Linked DNA regions of Homo sapiens. The protein of the gene in region 1 purifies or fractionates together with the protein of each later gene. This does not show direct contact. Each region holds a gene or a part of one and is shown in the gene's direction. Other genes may lie near its edges. The genes, in order: PARN, XRN1, EXOSC10 and ARHGEF1.

Evidence for each region.
Region 2: the proteins of PARN (region 1) and XRN1 fractionate together in Homo sapiens (co-fractionation; one large-scale study listed by BioGRID). This does not show direct contact.
Region 3: the proteins of PARN (region 1) and EXOSC10 fractionate together in Homo sapiens (co-fractionation; one large-scale study listed by BioGRID). This does not show direct contact.
Region 4: the proteins of PARN (region 1) and ARHGEF1 fractionate together in Homo sapiens (co-fractionation; one large-scale study listed by BioGRID). This does not show direct contact.

The regions. Positions count from the first base shown.
Region 1 is NC_000016.10:14,435,172-14,438,359, reverse strand, and holds the end of PARN (poly(A)-specific ribonuclease PARN), read left to right. Parts: intron 1-1,587; coding exon 1,588-1,643; 3' UTR 1,644-2,659; downstream 2,660-3,188. UniProt on the Homo sapiens protein: 3'-exoribonuclease that has a preference for poly(A) tails of mRNAs, thereby efficiently degrading poly(A) tails.
Region 2 is NC_000003.12:142,306,024-142,309,115, reverse strand, and holds the end of XRN1 (5'-3' exoribonuclease 1), read left to right. Parts: 3' UTR 1-2,506; downstream 2,507-3,092. UniProt on the Homo sapiens protein: Major 5'-3' exoribonuclease involved in mRNA decay. Required for the 5'-3'-processing of the G4 tetraplex-containing DNA and RNA substrates. The kinetic of hydrolysis is faster for G4 RNA tetraplex than for G4 DNA tetraplex and monomeric RNA tetraplex.
Region 3 is NC_000001.11:11,089,860-11,093,487, reverse strand, and holds part of EXOSC10 (exosome complex component 10), read left to right. Parts: intron 1-1,890; coding exon 1,891-1,995; intron 1,996-2,308; coding exon 2,309-2,474; intron 2,475-2,819; coding exon 2,820-2,934; intron 2,935-3,628. UniProt on the Homo sapiens protein: Catalytic component of the RNA exosome complex which has 3'->5' exoribonuclease activity and participates in a multitude of cellular RNA processing and degradation events.
Region 4 is NC_000019.10:41,893,074-41,896,701, forward strand, and holds part of ARHGEF1 (rho guanine nucleotide exchange factor 1), read left to right. Parts: intron 1-200; coding exon 201-230; intron 231-1,133; coding exon 1,134-1,233; intron 1,234-1,377; coding exon 1,378-1,474; intron 1,475-1,552; coding exon 1,553-1,588; intron 1,589-2,275; coding exon 2,276-2,413; intron 2,414-3,303; coding exon 3,304-3,409; intron 3,410-3,628. UniProt on the Homo sapiens protein: Seems to play a role in the regulation of RhoA GTPase by guanine nucleotide-binding alpha-12 (GNA12) and alpha-13 (GNA13) subunits. Acts as a GTPase-activating protein (GAP) for GNA12 and GNA13, and as guanine nucleotide exchange factor (GEF) for RhoA GTPase.

The DNA.
Region 1 (3,188 bases):
CTCTGAGCTGGATTTAATTTACTTCAGTTCCCCACATTTGGCATTGTAGCTTTTACCTTTAGAATGGCTAATTGGCTACTGCAATATTTCTTTCATATGTGAATTATAAAAGTGCCCTTAATGGATGTTTCTTTTCATACAGTTAGGTGTTTATTGTATCATTGTGGGACTGGGAAGGCCAGGCTAGCTGCAGGTTATCACAGGCCCCTTGCAGTACTTCACTGGACCCCATGAGTCCTTTTCAGTGGATCATCTCCTGCCCATCTTCACTTCTCCAGAGTGGTCTCGCCATCTTTACTGGGTGTCCCAGAACGTGCCTGTTCAGAGCGATGAGACCCAGGGCAGAAAGAGTCCGGTTACCCTTTCCCGGTCTCCTCACCCTAACTCCCTGGATCTTATCACAGTAAATGATCAGAAGTAGAAATTCTCATGTTAGCTGAAATTCTCTTCATGTTTTTTCTTGTGTTCAGACCTCGTTATTTTTAAGCATCCCTGTTACTGATGATAACCACTGTGAACTCAGTGATATGATTCCCTAGTTTGTAAGACACTGCACCCCCTCTGTATTTAAAAGTTATTTCCCATTGGAGGTATCATCAAAGACTTCTCTCCCTTTCTAAAATCTTGGTGTTAGCAGCTAGAAGAGAGACTGCCAGTTTCCCCCGTCAGCCCTACTTTATGACTTAATGCATGGCACCACTTGTGCAGCTGACGCCTGGTCGGGCCACACTTTCCATTATGAACATGCTCTTTCCTGACTTCCCTCACATTCGTTGAAGTCCAGTCCCAGCTCAGTTGCTGGCCGCAGCTGCTCGTATTGTAGAAAGTGGCATGAATAAAAAAGAAGGGCTTCTGACATTGGGGTGAAACTTTGTCACTGAAGAGATCTTTTCAATCCAAGAAGAGGACCCCAGCCAGCTTCACCGAAGCTGGAAAAAGCTGCAACCTTCTTTTGCCCCTGTTGAGATATTGGAACCCCCACTGGTTGGCTTCCCTCTGCCCTTCAGCTGCCCACCTGAGATTTCTCACCTAGGCAGAGCCACAGCACAGCACAGAGAAACTCAGTTTCCAGGGACTTTGGCAGGGATGTTGGTGCTGTGGGAGGATTCAGACCCCATCTCAGCCACTTGCTAGCTCTGTACATCTGGTCATATTACCCCACTTCTCTCAATCTGTTCTTGCATCTGTAAAATGGGGTAGTGTTACCACCTTGGTGGGCTTTTAATGAAGATTATATGAATTAAATGCCCGCTGTATTGCCAACAAAGAATCCAGCATGGTGTTCAGTGAGGAATACTGTGCATGGCTACAGTTTAACTCCTGTGAAATAAATAGATAGATGCTGGAGGCAGGGAGGTGCTTCCTCCGCGCCCCCATGATGTTTCTGTGGTTTCACTTTCCCATGCTGGGCACTGCCCTCCCTAGACAAGACCTGTCTGTGGACTCTTTCCAGCGCAGCTGTTTAGCCAGACGCTGGCCCCGTCTGCAGCCGTCACAGGCCCTCTGTCTGTCTGCTGGTCATGTCATGCTCTCCTCAAGGTGCCGTCCTGGTCCTGCTGTTCATATTGTTTTGTTCTTTCCCACCAGGAAGCATCTCGAAGAACAGCCCTGCCACACTCTTTGAAGTTCCTGACACATGGTAACCAAGACCTGAGGGCAGCAAACCGCTGGTGCTGTCGCTGTGAGCAAGAGCCGGCTGGCACATTTGGAAGCCGCACTGTATTTAACTTAATCAAATGTGGTATGGGAGGGGTTGGAAACCAAGTTGTCTCCTGGGGGGGAGAAAACAGGTTTTATTTTTGTGGCTGTGGTTTTTTCCCCTTTTTAATCTAACTGCCTGTTGACATTGACACTCATCACGGTTGTAGGCTGTCATGAATGTGTACGTGCTTAACCAGTGAATTCCGTGTTGCTCTTGTGAGGCCTTTCCTGTCATGACCCAGTGTGCTTAAGAACCTGCCTGATGGGGAGTGTCGGCTGTGAAATCTGCAAAAAGAGCTGACATTCCAGCTGCTGTGATCATGAATTTGGGGGTGTACTGTCCTGCCTGTGCATCTTCTCGCACTGAGATTTTGAGGCAGTTGCAGCCCTCGGTTAGTCTCCCAGTGGAAAAATCGGTTGTGCCTCCCTGCTTCCCACCATAGCTGCCTGAAAACATGACGCTCTCAAGCTTGTCCTTCCTTCAGGAAGATGTCCACTCATGCCCACCCATGAGAGGGCTTGCCGTATGCCCTGGCCTTTGGGCATATTTATGTAGAGTTCCTTTCTCCTAAGACGTGAGTTTCTCATGGGGGATGTACGAGTAAAAAGGTTAACTTCTGTTCTTATGCGTGGCGCTGTGTTCACTTTCCAGAGTCTCTGTTCGTTTGTTTGGATGGCGGTCTCGGGGTACGGCAGCGTGTGTGCGTACGTGTCTGTGTGTGTGTGTGTGTGTGTGTGTGTGTGTGTGTGTGTGTGTGTGTGAAATCGTGCAAATCTACAACATGTCCCAGCCCATTCTCCGTTGAAACAGATCACAGCAACGACAAACGCTCATGGCGCTGCTTTGCTCCACCCGCTTCAGATAGATCATTGTTAGATATTTCACATTTTTGTATGGTGGAAATAAAAATGAAAAATGTATTTCCAAAAGATGAAAATTAAAAACATTTTCATAGGACTCTGGTTTTCTCCTCTCTTTTTTTTTAATAAGTGAATGATGTTTTCGCTCTCTAGTAATACACAGATAAATTTCACACTCCTAAAAAAATCTGCTAAGCCACTAAGGCTGATGTTCATGGATTTTTTTCTTCTTCTTTTTACCCCTAACTGCTATACCTGCCACGATGGATCGGCTCCTCAGTACCGAGCTGAGCCCTGGTGGTAAGTGGCCTTGTAGGAGGGTGGGAGGAATGAGGACCCTTAGCACTCACACTGGAATCCCAGGGTGTTATGCAGATTCCGATTTGTAAGACAGTTTCCCTAATCAAGAGCCTCTGTCACACCTGTAAGCTGAGACGGGAGGATCACTTGAGCCCAGGAGTTCAAGACCAGCATGGACAACGCAGTGAGACCCTGTCTTTAAAAAAAAAAAAAAAAAAATTTTTTTTTTTTTTTTTTTTAAAGCATGTTAACTTCTCTTCCCCCTTCCTGCTCCTCTCCCTTCCTACAAAACTCCCTGGAGTTTTGTAGCCACAAAGTTAGAAACC
Region 2 (3,092 bases), on another chromosome or scaffold:
TATTCTTTTCCCCCTGTAGACCCATTCTAAATGTGGGCCTGAGGTCAATGGGAGATGTGCCCTCCCTATGGAGGATGTAAGAAGCAGAGGCCATTTCTGCCCCATGTTGAGGAAACAATCTGTTGATAGACCTGGAATTTAGAGTATATCTGAAAAGCAGTTGGACTTCAAGAAATTTAAAATTCTCTCTTTGAGATGGGGTGGACTAAGACCACCCCCAAAGTTTAAAAATATGCTCATTCAACTTGAATCTTCTGAGGACTTTTTGTGAAAATGGTGGACTGTTTAGGGCATAGGACAGATTCCCCAAATTGCTTTATGCTTCCACATAACTAGAGCACTTCAATCTATTTAAGCCTTTGTCTCCTAACTGAAACATTATTTCTAAATATTTCTATTCAATAAGTTTTTTCTTTTTTGAGCAACTTAAGTGAATTTTGAAGATTGCTCCTTCCAGTCTCGTTCCTTTTCACATTTTCCTGCATTACCTAATAATTACCTCAGCGTTAGAATTTGAATGTATTAATTGATTTAAACATCATGTAGACTAAAGTCTTAAACATCTAAGACTCAGTTGTAGTTGCAGAAAAAAATTAAAGTCACCTCTACTGAACCTTGGTTTCAATTTAAGATTTTTCTTGCTTTTCAAAGGGGTAACTAATAAAGATTGAAGGGTTTTTTTCCCGATTGGTGGAGGAATGAAGAACTATTGATGCAAGTTTTTTTATTGTTTCTTTCTATGATCAGGTACCTGCTTTCATTTTAGACTGCTACTTCCAAACTAAGCTAGATTCTTGGTTTTAATGAGAGGAGGCAGAGAGAGGGAGGCAGATGGAAGAAGAAAAACAGTTAAATAAGACATACCCAGTCACTGCATTTTTGGACTATACCGTATCTTTCTAGCACAAGGAAATAGATAAACTGTAAGGTCTTTTTTACTCACTTTTTATTTATGTGTTCTATTTGTGTTAGTCATAACTGTTTATAGTGGTTGTCTAATTTTTACTTTTATTATATGAGATAGAGCTGTGCAGATCTTCACTCAAGTTAGTTCTGTCACGCTTCTTCCCATTATTTAGAGCACAGTTTTTTAAAGCAACTGTACAATTTCTCAGCCTTATGAGCTTGCTGTATTTCTTGGTATCATGTTGCTTCCAAATTTTGTTTTTACTGTAGAAGACAATTAATTTATTGTAGAGAAGTGGCTGTGAAAGTCGTTCTCTGTCTTTAAAAATCAATTGCAGAAGTTCATTTGTCATTTTTCTAGAGATAAATTATAGTACTCAAACTGGCAGTGCTCAGTATATACATTTTGTAAGCTTTGTCAGTGAAACCATCAGTTTTGCAGGAGCTTCCTTTCCTAGTCAAGATAAAGCTTAAAATTCCAGAAATTAATGTCGTTCGGACTGACTTTATTCATATTTCCATCAAACTTCTCCAATACAGTAAGAGATAGTGTTGAACCAGCATCAAGTCTCCAGAAACATGGCAGAGCAGACAGGCCGTTAAGTTTCACAGACATCATAGATCCTTTTCTTAAAGAAGAAAAACATGTATAAAATAGTTTTAGTAGTCCAAAATGTCAACTATCTGTAGCTGCTTTTGTGTGTGTGTCAGTGAACAAATAATAATGCCTTGCTCAATCAATGCATTCAGCCATCTCAAGTGCAATTTGTGAAGGAGACTATGGTTTCCAAAAGATACATTTTTTTACAAAGTTAAACCTGTAAAAAGTCTTTTTTTTTTTCCCTCCAGCCGTACACCAACTGCACTTGGTTGTTTCAGCAGTTGGTATACTATTAAATTGTCCAGGCCAAATAGGTTTCTGTAGCTGTTTTAGTAATTTGAAGCCAAATTCTCATGCTGTTTCTCATTAAAAAGAATGAGAATTTGGTCCATAGTTAGCTTTAAGTTCTCTCTTCCTTTCTTTCCCTTACAGTTAAGGGTTTGGTGGGGGATGGGGAGGTTGTTTTCGTTTTTTGGATTTTTTTGTCTTTTGGCTTTAAGTATCATATTTTCTTTTGCCTGTATCCAACTGCTTCTTTGAGTATTTTCATCTAGTTTAATGTGAGTAATAGATGCTGTGCTGTCATTGAAGTGTTCAACATTTTGTTCATTTAAACAAAAGTGTAATTCATACATATATAGATACATATCTTAATTGATTTCTCAACTATTTTATAAGTAACTGGAATTTTTCATTAGATCTTATACAGAGAAGTATTTTATTAAAAATTCAAAAGGGAAGACTTTTATGTGCTCATTTTGTAATTTTTGATTTTAAATATCTTTACATTGTCTGCCAATTAAAGTGTTTTAAACTTGCATTGGAATGGACTCCGAATGTATTTTTGTGGTGTTACGTTATCCGTAGATTTCTAGCATGAAGTTAGCCTCACGATGCTGTGCAAAGGATTTTAAAATATGAGAGTCACTGAAAGAGTTTAAACATCTGTTCATGTTAAATGCTCTATGGATTTTAATTAAAGACTTGAGAATGATTTTATAAGCTGTTTGTTCTTTTATTACTATGCTGATATCAAAAGTAGAAACATTAGTCTTTTTGTTTGTTTGTTTTTGAGACAGAATCTTGCTCTGTCGCCCAGGCTGGAGATCTCGGCTCCCTGCAGCCTTCACCTCCCAGGTTCAAGCGATTCTCTTGCCTCAGCCTCCTGAGTACCTGGGACTACAGGCACATGCCACCATGCCTGGCCAATTTTTTAATTTTTTTTATTTCCATAGGTTATTGGGGAACAGGTGGTGTTTGGTTACATGAATAAGTTATTTAGTGGTGATTTGTGAGATTTTGGTTCACCCATCACCTGAGCAGTATACACTGCACACAATTTGTAGTCTTTTATCCCTTGGCCCCTTCCCACACTTTCCCTCTGACCCCCAAAATCCATTGTGTCATTCTTATGCGTTTGCATCCTCATAGCTTAGCTCCCACTTATGAGTGAGAACATACAATGTTTGGTTTTTCATTCCTGGGTTACTTCACTTAGAATAATAGTCTCCATTCTCATCCAGGTTGCTGCAAATGCCACTAATTCATTCCTTTTTATAGCTGAGTAGTATTCCACTATACACTA
Region 3 (3,628 bases), on another chromosome or scaffold:
AGTCTAAATGCCTACAAATCTTTCAGCAGTTTCTGGTATATTGTGATTTCAAGTCCTGCCATAATCCTATGTGTCACCTGGTTGTGCCTCTGTTAGTAGTGCCCAAGCTGATATTTCACGTCTGCTTTAAAGTGCAAAATAGATGAGGACTCCCTGCAGTTTCATTCTAAATAGTGTACTTCTATATTTAATGTATGCAGTCCAGGGACTTCTTAGTTATTTTAGTGGCCACATTACACTGTTAAATCATATTAGAATTTTCAGCCCAATTCAGAGCTTTAAAGAGTCAATCGAGTATTGGGCATGGGTAATTACTGTCCTACCTGCCTTTGAGCAAATAATGCATTAATTACTTGGCATGACATACTAATGACCTTTATTGATCAACTTTGTAAAATTTTTATTTTTTTATTGACAAAAATTGTATAGGCGATCATTTACATGGTTATGTCTCAATAAACCTATATTATAAGTCAAAAATGCATTTAATACACCTCACTTACCAAATAGCTTAACTGAACCTGCTTTAAATGTGCTCAGAAAACTTCCATTAGTCTACAGTTGGGCAAAATCTTACACAAAGCCTATTTTTATAATACAGTGTTGAATATTCATCTCATGTAATTCAAGTAGCATTGAATACACTTCTGAAAGTGAAAAACAGGTTGTGGCCGGGCACAGTAGCTCATGCCTGTAATCCTAGCATTTTGGGAGGCCAAGGCAGGTGGATCACTTGAGGTCAAGAGTTCAAGACCAGCTTGGTCAACATAGTGAAACCCCATCTCTACTAAAAAATACAAAAATTAGCTGGGCGTGGTGGCGTGCACCTGTAGTCCCAGATACTCGGGAGGCTGAGGCATGAGAATTGCTTGAACCCAGGAGGCGAAGACTGCAGCAAGCTGAGATTGGACCACTGCACTCCAGCCTGGGCAACAGAGTGAGACTCCCTCTCAAAAAAAAAAAAAAGAAAAACAGGGCCAGGCACAGTGGCTTACGCCTGTAATCCTAGCACTTTGGGAGGTCGAGGCAGGCAGCTCACAAGGTCAAGAGATCGAGACCATCCTGGCCAACCTGGTGAAACCCTGTCTCTACTAAAAATACAAAAATTAGCTGGGCGTGGTGGTGCATGCCTGTAGTCCCAATTACTTGGGAGGCTGAGGCAGGAGAATCGCTTGAACCCGGGAGGCAGGTTGCAATTAGCTGAGATCACGCCATTACACTTCAGCCTGGCAACAGAGCAAGACTCTGTCTCAAAAAAGAAAAAAGAAAAACAGGTGGTAAGTGTACTTGAAATATGGATTCTACTAAATGCAAATCACTTTCACATCATTGTAAACTCAAAAACTTACAAGTCAAACTGTCATACATTGGGGACCATCTATATATTTATTACATACAACTTGATGTTTTGATACATACATTGATCTGTTCTTATATATGTATATTTTCTTACACAAATGTCTCTGAATACCAATCTCTTTAAAATGTTAGGTAATTAGGTGGGGCACGGTGGCTCACGCCTATAATCCCAGCATTTTGGGAGGCTCAGGTGGGCGGATCACTTGAGGTCAGGAGTTCGAGACCAGCCTGGCCAACCGGGTGAAACCCCATCTCTACTAAAAATAAAAAATTAGCCAGGTATGGTGGTGCACACCTGTAATCCCAGCTACTCGGGAGGCTGAGGCAGGAGAATCGCTTGAACCCTGGAGGCAGAGGTTGCAGTGAGCCCAATTCAGAACTGTAAAGAGTTGCAGTGAGGCAAGATTGCGCCACTGCACTCCAGCCTGGGTGACAGAGTGATACTCCATGTTAAATAAATAAAATGTTAGGTAGTTAACTCTGCTAACCTCAAAAGGAAAAATGCTTAACCAGTACCTCTTCTACTCTTAGGGTATTTTACTGGATGAAGCCTCAGGTGTAAACAAGAATCAACAGCCTGTCCTCCCTGCCGGCTTGCAGGTCCCCAAAACGGTAGTGTCCAGCTGGAACCGTAAGGTGAGGGCTTTTCAGATTAACTAGAGCTCTTGATGTCAGCTTCATAACAGAGATTTTGCTCATTCTAACATGCATTTCTGTTCTAATTTATTAGAGAACTGGCCACTGTCTCCTTTAGTTTGTTCTCATAAACATACACAAACTAATTACACCCTCTTCTTCTCTTTCTGGAGACCTCTACATGCACATACATTCTTAAATGAATGAATGACCTTTGCGATGTTCTTGTCTCCTCAGAAGTCATAAATTGGAATTTACTTTTCTAATTCATCAAGTTGCTGTGTTATAAAGTATTTGTATTCATTGATCATAGGCAGCAGAATATGGCAAAAAAGCAAAATCTGAAACTTTCCGGCTGCTTCATGCAAAAAATATCATCCGACCTCAGCTCAAGTTTCGAGAGAAGATTGACAATTCCAACACACCATTTCTTCCTAAAATCTTCATCAAACCCAATGCTCAGAAACCTCTCCCTCAAGGTAAATAGTGCATACTTTGCCTGTGTTTGAGTCTCACTTTATTTGATGCAAAAACCAGGAAGGGTGTACAGGTCTCTCTTCTTTGTTCAAAGGGAGCCCACCCTCCTTTGTTCAAAGGGAGCCCAGTTCAGCTATTCCAGAGGCTGAAGTGGGAGGATCACTTGAGCCCAGGAGGTCAAGGCTACAGTGAGCTGTGCTTGTGCCACCACACTTCAGCCTGGGGGACAGAACATGACCCTGTCTCAAAAAAAAAAGCCAAAAAACAAAGGGAACCAGTTTACCCCTGTGTAATTAGAAAAGACATGAATGTGCTAATGATGTTTTTGTCACTGCTGGGATCCCCAGCTCTCTCTAAGGAAAGGCGGGAACGCCCACAGGATCGTCCTGAGGACTTGGACGTCCCCCCTGCACTGGCTGATTTCATCCATCAGCAGAGAACCCAGCAGGTTGAGCAAGACATGTAAGTGTTGGCCTGTGTCTGACTTTCTGCCGTGAGTACTTACCTTTTTGCCACATTTTCACTTTTGTGGAGTATATACATGAAAACAATCTGAGGAGTAGTGATTTCCTCCTTACACCCCAACCTGGGCCTTAGCAATAAAACCTGCTGTTTGTGTTCACAAAGGGCCTACACAGCATTGCCTCATGTAAACCTCACTGCAGTCCTGAGAAGTAGCAGTTGCTCTTATTCCCATTTTATAGATGTAAAACACGAAGGCTGGGCGCGGTGGCTTACGCCTGTAATCCCAGCACTTTGGGAGGCTGAGACCGGTGGATCACCTGAGGTCAGGAGTTCGAGACCAGCCTGGCCAACATGGTGAAACCCCATCTCTACTGAAAATACAAAAATTAGCCAGGCGAGGTGGTGTGTGCCTGTAATCCCAGCTACTCGGGAGGCTGAGGCAGGAGAATCGCTTGAACTTGGGAGGTGGAGGTTGCAGTGAGCCAAGATGGCGTCACTGCACTCCAGCCTGAGTGATAGAGTAAGACTCCATCTCAAAAAAAAAAAAAAAAAAAGATGTAAAAGCAAAATTAGAGATGCAGGCTTCTTGTAGAGTTGGAACTTCTTTGAGACAGGGTCTTGCTCTGTCGCCCAGACTGGAGTGTGGTGGCATGAACACAGCTCACTACAGCCTTTACCTCCTGGGCTCAAG
Region 4 (3,628 bases), on another chromosome or scaffold:
TCTGGCACTTGGATCCCATCCTCCTGGATGAGAGACCTCCCTCCCTCTTATGACAGTCCTTCCCAATCCCTTCCACAGTGTCCCCTCTCTGTCTCTCTTCCCCCTGCCTATCCCAGGACAGCAACCCTGAGATGTATCCTGGGTGGATGGGGACCCCAGGCCTAGCAAATATGTCACAAACATCTCTCTTCCTCCTACAGACATACCATCTCTACCGACGAAGAAAAGAGGTGAGGGGGGCAGGGGAGGCGTGCGGCCTCCTGGGTTTGAGGGAGGAGGGGGCTGAGGGCCTGGACTCCTGGGTCTGAGGGAGGAGGAGGCTGGGGGGCCTGGACGCCTGGGTCTGAGGGAGGAGGGGGCTGGGGGGCCTAGACGCCTGGGTCTGAGGGAGGAGGGGGCTGGGGGGCCTGGACGCCTGGGTCTGAGGGAGGAGGGGGCTGGGGGGCCTGGACGCCTGGGTCTGAGGGAGGAGGGGGCTGGGGTCCTGGACGCCTGGGTCTGAGGGAGGAGGGGGCTGGGGGCCTGGACGCCTGGGTCTGAGGGAGGAGGGGGCTGGGGGCCTGGACTCCTGGGTCTGAGGGAGGAGGAGGCTGGGGGCCTGGACTCCTGGGTCTGAGGGAGGAAGGGGCTGGGGGGCCTGGACGTCTGGGTCTGAGGGAGGAGGGGGCTGGGGGGCCTGGACGCCTGGGTCTGAGGGAGGAGGGGGCTGGGGGGTCTGGACTCCTGGGTCTGAGGGAGGAGGGGGCTGGGGGCCTGGACTCCTGGGTCTGAGGGAGGAAGGGGCTGGGGGCCTGGACTCCTGGGTCTGAGGGAGGAGGGGGCTGGGGGCCTGGACTCCTGGGTCTGAGGGAGGAGGGGGCTGGGGGCCTGGACTCCTGGGTCTGAGGGAGGAGGAGCCTGGGGCCTGGACACTTGGGTCCTGGGCATTGGGTAACAGCCCTTGCCCCTGTCCTTTTGAACCCTCTCATCTCTCCTCAGAGTCTCACAGGAAGTAGTTGTGGGGTCAGGATGGGAAGGCCGGGCCTCTGCCTCTAGGGGGAGAGAGAGAGAGTGTGTGTGTGAGTGTGTGTGTGTGTGTGTGTGTGTGTGTGTGTCTTTGTGTGTGTTGAGCCCTCACTGTCCCTTCCCTACAGTGCTGCCGTGGTCAACGCCATTGGCCTGTACATGCGCCACCTTGGGGTGCGGACCAAGAGTGGAGACAAGAAGTCGGGGAGGAACTTCTTCCGGAAAAAGGTGCTTCCCTCAGTGCCCCGTCCTGACCCTTTCCTCTCCAGAGACGCCCTGGGAGCCTCATGACTCTGGATACCTAGCGTCAAATTCTGCTTTGTTGTTGTCTCAGAGATGCTTAGCCTGGTCTTCCTCCCCGCCCTCTCACAGGTGATGGGGAACCGGCGGTCGGACGAGCCTGCCAAGACCAAGAAGGGGCTGAGCAGCATCCTGGATGCCGCCCGCTGGAACCGGGGAGAGCCCCAGGGTAAGGCGGCTCTGGCCTCTGCCCTCCCCTGTCTTCCCCAGCTGCTCCCACTCACTGTCTCATTCTCTCTCGTTTCAGTTCCAGATTTTCGACACCTCAAAGCAGAGGTTGATGGTAATGTACCTGTAGCCATAGCATCCATACTGGGGGCCTGTGTGGGAGAGGCTAGGACCTGGACGCCTGGGTCTGAGGGAGGAGGGGCTGGGACCTGGACGCCTGGTTCTGAGGGAGGAGGGGATGGGGGCCTGGACACCTGGGTCTGAGGGAGGAGGGGCTGGGGGAGCTCCTGGGTCTGAGGGAGGAAGGGCTGGGCCTGGACCCCTGGGTCTGAGGGAGGAGGGACTGGGCCTGGACCCCTGGCTCTGAGGGAGGAGGGGCTGGGGGAGCTCCTGGGTCTGAGGGAGGGAGGCCTGGGGCCTGGACCCCTGGGTCCGAGGTAGGAGGGATTGGGCCTGGACCCCTGGGTCTGAGGGAGGAGCGGCTCAGACTCGGACTCTTAGGTCTGAGGAGGAAGGGCTGGGCCTAGACCCCTGGGTCTGAGGGAGGAGGGGCTGGGGGAGTTCCTGGGTCTGAGGGAGGAAGGCCTGGGGCCTGGACCTCTGGGTCTGAGGGAGGAGGGGCTGGGGGCCTGGACTCCTGTGTCTGAGGGAGGAGGGGTTGAGGGCTCCTGGGTCTGAGGGAGGAAGGGGCTCCTTGTCATGGTGGGGAAGGGCCTGAGCACAGCCTCTTGCATCCCCTGGCGGTTGTGGATTTGAGTTACTGTTCTCTTATCTCCCTCTTTCTCCCTCACTGTCTCCCCAGCCGAGAAGCCAGGTGCTACAGACCGGAAGGGAGGCGTGGGGATGCCCTCTCGGGACCGGAATATCGGGGCTCCTGGGCAGGACACCCCTGGAGTCTCTCTGCACCCTCTGTCCCTGGACAGCCCAGACCGGGAACCAGGTGAGAGTTTCCTGGGCCAGGGCTCCATGAGGCCCGGCGATCCAGGGTGGGGGTGCTGCCTGCCCCCTTGGCACCCCCAGATAGAAGCCATTCCCCAGCAACACCTCCCCTTTGCTCTCAGCATCCACTTCTCCCTGCTCCTGGTCACCACTGTCATTCATAACTTTCCCCTTCCCTCAGTTTGCCCTTTCCACAGCTTTGCTCCCAGGCTCTGACCTCTCTGCTGGTGCTGCGTCTCCCACCCCCTTGGACTACGTTTTCCATCAACCCTTCCTTTTCCAGAACCTTCCCTGAGTACATGACCAGTCCACCCTCTGAGCTGCATTGCTGGCCCCCTAGGTGGGGAGCCCGCCAGCCCCATGAGCTTCATCCCTCACCATCCTTACACTGCTGTGGCCTCAGGCCCTTGGATCTCTGCATGGCCAGGCCAGGGCTCACACACCAGCTCTGCTGACTGCTTGTGTTTATTTAGTATCTTGGATATGACTCCCCTTTCTTAGCCTCCGTTTGCTTTTCTCTAAAGGAGTATGAGAGGGTGGGGAGGATGAATGGACGTGGAGGCAGCACAGAATCCAGGGCCCTCCCGACCTCAGGGGGCTGCAGTCTGGTTGGGTGGGAGAGATGTTTGTGACCTATTTGCTAGGCCTGGGGTCCCCATCCACCCAGGACACACAGGGGCACCCACTTCTGTTGCATCTTCATGCTCCTGCCCCTAGTGGCCATGTTCTGAGAGGTCTTAACATCTGTCCGTCCCGTGCTGAAGTACAGAGCAGCCATGTGGTGTCTGCCAGGCACTGGGTAGCTTTAGCCCCCGCAATTCCAGGCCCCCAGAGTGTGGGTCTCGTGGCCGCAGAGGCCTTCCAGCCAGCCCTGCTCCCTCCACCCCACAGGTGCTGACGCCCCCCTGGAGCTGGGGGACTCATCCCCGCAGGGCCCAATGAGCCTGGAGTCCTTGGCGCCCCCAGAGAGTACCGACGAGGGGGCCGAAACCGAGAGGTGCCCAGGCTGGGGTGCAGGGGCGGGAGGTGTGGCTTACTGGGCGCTGGTGGGTGGGTGCAGGGTCACCGCTGCCATCTGTGCCTGCCTGTCCCAGGCTCTTGCTCCCCATGCTCCTCTGCTGCTCTCTGGGTCTGGCCATTCCTCTCCCTTCTTCTTTCCTTTTCTCATCTCCCTCCTGCTTCCTCATTGCCCCCCTTTCCTTTTATCCTTCCTTTT